Homo sapiens: one gene and its partner. The protein of the gene in region 2 purifies or fractionates together with the protein of the main gene of each other region. This does not show direct contact. Each region holds a gene or a part of one and is shown on either strand. Other genes may lie near its edges.

What was found. The genes of interacting proteins can lie anywhere in the genome.
Region 1: the proteins of TSEN15 (region 2) and AASDHPPT purify together in Homo sapiens (co-immunoprecipitation; 2 studies listed by BioGRID and IntAct, with this or other methods). This does not show direct contact.

Annotation. Positions count from the first base shown.
Region 1 is NC_000011.10:106,096,929-106,099,195, forward strand, and holds the end of AASDHPPT (L-aminoadipate-semialdehyde dehydrogenase-phosphopantetheinyl transferase), read left to right. Parts: 3' UTR 1-1,767; downstream 1,768-2,267. UniProt on the Homo sapiens protein: Catalyzes the post-translational modification of target proteins by phosphopantetheine.
Region 2 is NC_000001.11:184,070,298-184,075,636, forward strand, and holds the end of TSEN15 (tRNA-splicing endonuclease subunit Sen15), read left to right. Parts: intron 1-318; exon of another isoform or gene 319-435; intron 436-1,859; coding exon 1,860-2,001; coding exon of another isoform or gene 2,002-2,013; intron 2,014-2,529; coding exon 2,530-2,550; coding exon of another isoform or gene 2,551-2,566; 3' UTR 2,567-3,915; downstream 3,916-5,339. UniProt on the Homo sapiens protein: Non-catalytic subunit of the tRNA-splicing endonuclease complex, a complex responsible for identification and cleavage of the splice sites in pre-tRNA. It cleaves pre-tRNA at the 5' and 3' splice sites to release the intron.

The DNA of each region.
Region 1 (2,267 bases), on a different chromosome or scaffold from region 2:
GAAATGAAAACTGTTTGTGATCTTCCGTATTCACTGAAAAATAAATGCTTGTTTAGTATCAAATTTTATTTCACGAAAGTTTTTTTAAAGAACAGAAACTTTTCCAATTAAAAAAAAAAAGCAGACTTCTGGTTCAAGATAGCTCACTGGAATACATGTTTACCTCTTTCTTTCCTAAATTGCATTGAATTGATAGGAAGGATGGCGGAATCTTAAAGTGATACATGCTAACTGTAGAAAAAAATAGAAAATGCACATAAGCAAAAGGAAACATTTAAATGCTATCTTTCAAAGATAACTACTCTTAAAACCTTGAGTATCTTTTCAGACCTTTTTCTTGGCAAATGAATCCATATTGACATATTTGATTTTTTTAAAAACATGGAAACGTACTGTTTTGTAAATTCTTTTTAACTGCACATCTACTGTTCATAAATATACCTCTGTAACATAACTTTTTGTGGTTCTAATGTACTCTGTTGTATAGCTAATACAAGTTAGGATGCTTTTGGCCAGAGGTAACAGTGTCCAAATATAATTGGCCTAAGTAACCTAGGAAATTGTTTGACATAACACAGGGTTCAGGGGTGTCATTAAAGACACACTTTTTTTGCCTTGACCTCAGTTGGTTTGTTTTGCCTTAGGCTATTCCACCTCTCGATCACAAGAGCTGCTGCTATAACTTCCAGTTTTACATCTTTGTAAAATTGTATCTCAAAGGCAGAAAAGGCCATTTCGTCTCTCATTTGTTTTATCCATGAGGAAGATTTTTAACAAAAGCCTCCAGAAGATTTCCCCTCAGTTTCCATTGACTTAGATCAGGTTACAGAGAAAGGCAATGTCTGACATTTTTGGTCTCTGTTAGAAGTAGACTCTGTTGAAAAGAAAGAAGCTAAGCTAGGTGTGAAGAATGGAATTGGAAGCCCACTGCCTTCCCATAAGAAAGGTTTACCATAATTTACTCACTTTTTTCTGTGTTAGACATTTTGATTATCTGCAGTTTATTACTACAAGCAGTGGCAGAGTGAATGTCCTTGTACATTTTGAGTTACATGCTTAATTATGTCCTTGAGAAAGTTTCTAAAAGTGGAATGATTGGTTTGACTGGTTCATAGGGCTTTAATTATACAATTTACCCCTCTAATTAGTACTATATGTATGTGACTTCCCTCCCCCTGCCAGAATACTCCTTGGTCAATTGTAGGTATTCTTTTTGGTTTAATTTTTGCCAATGTAATTAAAAAATGGTATGTCATTTTTAAAATTTGTATTTCTTTCATTACAAATAAGATTGTTATGTCAGTATTGTTATTGGCTTTTCGTATTCCTCTTAACGTGAACCGTCTGTTCATTGTTTTTACCTGTTTTCGTTTTAGCAAGTAGTACTTAATTTAAAGTGTGAACTTAATATATAAGATGCCAGGACCATCATATTGATGACAAAAATCTATTATGTGGTTGTAGTGCATGTCTTGGAGTTAAACTCTTAAGTATCAAGAAGTAAAATAATTTCATTGTTTCTGTTACTAACATTAAAAGTGTGCAAATTGTATAAAATTAGGTACTTCGATTAGTAAAAGAAAAAAATTTGAATGTTTTTTTTTTTTATTTTATTAAGCATGCCCAGTTATGCCAAGCATAGTAAATAAAGGTCAAGTAGCATTTATAATAGAGGAAGTATTGTTATCCCTAGCATGAGTGTAATGGTGATATGAAAAACTTTGTCTTGTCATTATAATAATAAAAAAATGAACATTTATTATGGAATTTCTATGAGCCTGACACTGTGTTGGATTTGTGTTTTTTAGTTTTTAGTTTTTCTATTACTTTTAATCAAAGTTTCATGTGTACACAGCTTTAAAAAATTGGATAGATCTGTAAGATTTTTTTCCTAAGGAAAAAGGCCATTACTCTGACTTCTTCCATTTCCTGTCTCCAGGGCAAGCCCTTTCAACTCTTTTAGATGTTATTTTTTTTGTTATTTATTACCATGTCTCCAAATGACATGCTTATATTGCTTTTACTTGATTTTTTAATTTTAGGCATTGTTTCTTTGATTTTCAAAATAAAGCTTCCCTCTTCTGCTTCCCAGCATTACACATTCCCTTTTTATCCCCTTTTCTCCTCCCAACATAACAATTCAATGTTTACATTGTTGACTGTGATTACACTAAGGATATGTGTACATTATTGAGATTATGTAACTGCTGTATACAGCTGAGTGATGTATTATCCTTACCATATACTAATTTCTTATTTCCTTTAGT
Region 2 (5,339 bases):
AATGGAAAATGTGTTAAAGTTGTGTTAACAGGCTTCCTTCTTGTCTGTGTCCCATTCTCATCACAGTCTACCAGTTAGGGATGTTTAGAGAAATTTATCTTGTGGCATTGAAGTGGCTTTATGTGCATTATATATTGGGTTTTATGTATATTGCATACTGTGAAGTAATCATGATACATGCTGACAACAAAAGATGTAGATAAGTTAAAATTTTAGTTGATCCATTGTCTGTTTCTTCTTTGCCATCTTTGTAGAAAAAAATTAATTCAAGATGGACAGCCTATAAAAATGTATCTTTTTCTATTATTATTAATTTAGATATTGGCGTGCCACTTTTGAAGAAGGAAAATACTTAGCTACATTAAAAGATTTGCATTGAAGAAGCAATTGTGATATGCTGCCTTTTATCACAGTGTGACTTCCCATCAGTGCTGAGTAATGAAGTTTCTGATTAATATCTATCGTTGCTTTATCAGAATATCTTTCTCTAAAGTAAATCATTCTTGTGAATAAGAATCTAGCTAGTTGTAATGCAGTTCAGCATAGGTGGAAATAATTTTTTAAGGACTAAGTCAATTTCTGGGATTCAGACTGTTTCAGAAAAGAAACATTTTCTGTATTTCCACTAATGGCACAGTGTACCTTAGTATGTTTGGGTTAGTATTCAGTTTTAGCAATAATCATGGAGGCAGGGGTATCTATAAATATTATATCCCAATTTGCAAGGTAGCAAAGTTGTATATATACTACATAATATGACCACTTGACAGTTTATGAAGTCTTTTCATATATGCCATTTAATTGATTCATATAATAATCTTATGTGTAAACATAAAGGTGTACTACTATCTTCATTTCAAGTATCCTTGAAAAGACTTTCTCCATTGAATTGCCTTTGTACCTTTGTCAAAAATCAACTGACCAGCCTTATAGCACGTTAAGAAGTAACTTATATGATGTTATTAACACAAAGGATGGGGGAAGGAATGAAGCTATATTGGAGTAAACAATGACACCAGACAGTTATGTGAAGAAATGAAGAATACCAGGAATATTAAATATGTGAATGTAAAAGACCCTAATATATTTTCCTTTCTCCTCTTAACTTTATAAAAAGAAAATTATTTAAAGTAATAATTACAACACTATATTACTGGGTTTAAATATATAAACATATATGACAATAATAGCATAAAGGTGGAGGAAAGGAATAAAGCTCTATTGGAGCAATTTCTATATTTTTTAGAATCAAGTTAGTATTAAGCTGAGAGAAATTGTGATAAACTAAGACGCAATAGTAATCTCTAGAGTCATCACTACGAAACTCAAGAAACTATAGTAAAAAAAAATACATTAATTAAAATGGTGTACTAGAAAATACCTATTTAATAGAAAAGAAGGTGATAAAGGAGGGTGAGAGGAAGTAAAAAGACATGTGATATATAGAAAACAAATAGCTAAATGGCAGGCATGAATCCAACCATACCAATGTTAATTTTAAATTTGAATAAACACTCAAAAGGGCAGAGATTGTCAGATTGGATATAAAAACAAGATCCAACTATATGCTATCTACAAAAGATACACTTCAGATTCAGAGACAACAATTTTGGAAAACTGTCAACTATTTCTATACCATTCTCTTTCCTTTCCTTCTGTGATTCCAATTATGTGTAATGTTGAACTTATTTGATACTATACCAGAAGACTCTGATGTTATTTTTTAAAATTATTTTTTCTCTTTTTACTTCAGTTTGGTTTCTTGTGACCTGTTTTCAAGTTTTCTAGTGCTTTCTTCTGTCACATCTCATCTAATTGAGTGACCGCAACTCCTAAGTATATTGTGACTTTATTTTCAGGATAAGGGAGATCTTGAAGGCATCTCGAAAGTTGCAAGGTGATCCAGATTTGCCGATGTCTTTTACTTTGGCCATAGTGGAGTCTGATTCTACAATAGTCTATTATAAACTTACTGATGGATTTATGCTGCCAGACCCTCAGGTCAGTTTTGAGGTAACTGACAGCAAGAAGTACAAAAAGAGGAAAATTATGACGTGATTTTAAGTGTGACTCAAGTCAGTCACAGAACTGCCACTTCCTTTGCCATAGGGAAAATTCAAGAAAAAAAGTCTTGATTTTCAGACGTCAGAAAATTGGTTATATTTTGTTCAAAGTAGCATGTTCCTAGTTATTTTTGCAAAAAAAAAATTGATTTCCTTACTCTTTGGAGAATTTCATGGTTTTCCAAAGTATTTTATGAAGTCATCATGCATTTAATTATTTAGTGAGTAGCTGAGGTGGAATGTAAAGGCTAATAATAGTTGTAAGTAAAAAAACGCTTATTTAAGAAATGTTAAATTGGTTGACATTTTGACAGGAACATTTTAATAAGATAAATGTGCTATATGTGATTTCTTTACATACTTTGTTGGTATAATTTGGATAATTACATTAAATATCTTTCTAATTTTGCTTTTGGATTACATTGTTTATCGGAGAAAAGTCCATCCTGATCTTTTTTTTTTCCAGAATATTTCTCTTAGAAGATGACATCCATGTTTCCTGATGCTTGTTTTATTCATACAAGATTGGATTTGAGACCCATCAGACTGCTTCATCTTTTATCTCAGAAATAGGGTTGACGTACATAGTGAGGGTTGACTTCCCCATTCCATAAGGTTTTCATTCTGAAGAGTAAAACTTCCCCAGGTAGAAGACTTTCTCCTTCTTAAAAAATATAGGGTGATTTCTTTAAAACTTTGTTATCTAGAGACAGTTTAATTACAGTTATATACAGGTTTATGCCTAGGATGTATTCAGATGGGTGGGACCTGTGTGCTGCTTTTGTCATCCCACACTCAAAGTTGTCTCTTTGTTTCTTGCTGCCACTGCCAGCTCATTGTTGAGACTGCCATTTCTTTCTCTTACTCAGCTCTCCCCAGTGCCTTTTGGCCACTGCAGCTACCGTAGAATGGCATTTTATATGTACCTTGTCACCCACTTCTGTTTACTTTTTCCTCTCCAGTAAAAAGTAAAAGATTTCTTTCAATTGGTCTTCCCATTGCAGTTACTGTTATTTCTCTTTTTTGGTTAACTTTAAATCAAAACTCAAAATATGTTCATCCAGAGTGTGTCTTAAGTAACTTACGTGTCTTAAGTAACAGGGACCAGAGACATGTTACCTACAAGAGTTCTGGGCTATCCTTTTCATTCTTATCACATATCATAGCTTGAATATTACAACAGTGTGGGAGAGAATCAACCGTAAAAATGTCTTCATTAATTAGACCCAGTTATTCCACTTTTGTTAATGTCTCTCAAATTGTACAAAGTATAAAAAATTATATGCACAAAGATGTTCCAAGTGACATTACTTTTAGTAGCCCAAATTATAAACCACTTTAAAGTTTGGGGTAAAGATTGGCAAACTTTTTCTATAAAGGGCCAGAAAGTAACTATTTTAGGTTTTTAAACCTACTGTCTCTGTCATAACTTGTCAACACTGCTGTATGAAGCACAAAAGCAGCCATAGACAATACATAAACAATACGGGCGTGGCTTTGTTCCAGTAAAACTTTGTTTACAAATGTGGTGCCATAGTTTGTCATCCCTGGGTCTAGGAAATAGTCAATAAACAGATATATACAAATGATACATAATGTACTTATTAAAAATTAGTAATGAATATTATTAAAAACATGAAAATATTACCTTAAGTAAAAATTGCAAGACGGAAAAGTGTATAAGTGGGTGTAATCATGGCTGAAATAACAGACCAAGCATATGATAAAAAGATAACAAAGTAAATCAAATTACTAACTGGTTATAGTGGGATAGGAGGCAGAAAATGGATGACTTTGTCTTTTCTCAATGTTTTTATTTGTATTTTATAATAAAAATGTTTTAAAATTAAAAGGTGTCTTGAAATCTGTATTAGTTATCTATCATTGCAAAATAATATTACCACAAATGTAGCAACTTAAAACAGCACACATTTATTATCTTATAGTTTTTGTGGGCAAGGGACCCGGGCACAGATTAGTTGGGTCCTCCATGAGGCTACAGTCAAGGTGTTGGGCAGGGCTCCAGTCTCATCTGAGACTTGACTGGGGAAGGGTCAGCTTTTTCACCCACATGGTTATTAGTAGCCTTCAATTTCTTGAGAGTGCTCAATGCTTATATGCCATTGGCAGGAGGCCACCCTCAGCTCTTTGCCACGTGGGCCTTCTCAATATAACTGGTTGCTTCCTCAAAGCCAGCAAAGGAGAGTCTCAGCAAGATGGACCTTATAATCCTTATATAATGTAATCACATACATCCCATCACCTTTGCCGTATTCTGTTGATTGGAAGCAGGTCATAGGTCCTGCCTACACACTAGGGTTTCATGGCTGATTAGGAAACAACAATAACAAGAATGGAAAAATGATGAAAATTAGGAACATCACAAAATAGTATAAAGCATCATTCTTCATCTGTAGTCATTCCTGACTCCTTCCTTTGATGGTATTTGAATTTCACTTTTATTCTTGGTGGGAGGTCTCCATAACTCCTTCAGGCTCCCTCTGCTTCCCCAGAGGACATGAAGATGGACCTATTCAGAACAATATGTGTTTGGGTGACTCTAGTGGAAAATTTGCAGGTCTAAGAATCCTCAAACAGTTTATGATAAATTCTTAGGGTCTCTTGATTTCTTAAGTCTCTCGTTTGATTCATTTTGAGGTCTTTCATTATAATTCTAGAAAAATAGCATTTTCAGAAAGAAGTGTAAGGATAATGTCAGATTTGTGTGTCGGATCTGTTGACCAGTGGGCTCCTATATAACTACAAAACCAGAAGTGTCTTTTGGGGTTGGCTGTGAAAGGCGCTTTCCCAACTCTTTAAACTAGGATTGAATCCTGCTGTATGTCTTGGGATGTTTACTCTATTTCAGAATGTTCCCTGTGTACTTCACCAAAGTTGTTCTGTCCAAAGCCAGCCAGACACATCCTAACATGAATAATGGCCCAGAACTTTTTGGAAAGGGAGGCCACCCAGCTGTGTATGTCTCATTTTAATGAAAAACTAGATAAAGTGATTTAAGTAATTTTGTAAGTGAGTTTACATTTGTCTCCCTGTTAGACTGGGCTCCTTAAGAACAGAACAAGAAATGTATTTTTTAATACATCTCTGTATCTTGCCTCTTTGCACAGTAACTCACATATAGTAAACCCTCAGTAAATACTTGGCAAATGAATGAATGCTGATTATAGCCGTGTCTGATTATATAATGGCTTATTTTTTCCCTCAAGGCAAACTAAAACAATTCATTTGGACACCAGAGGGCACTGCTAGATAACC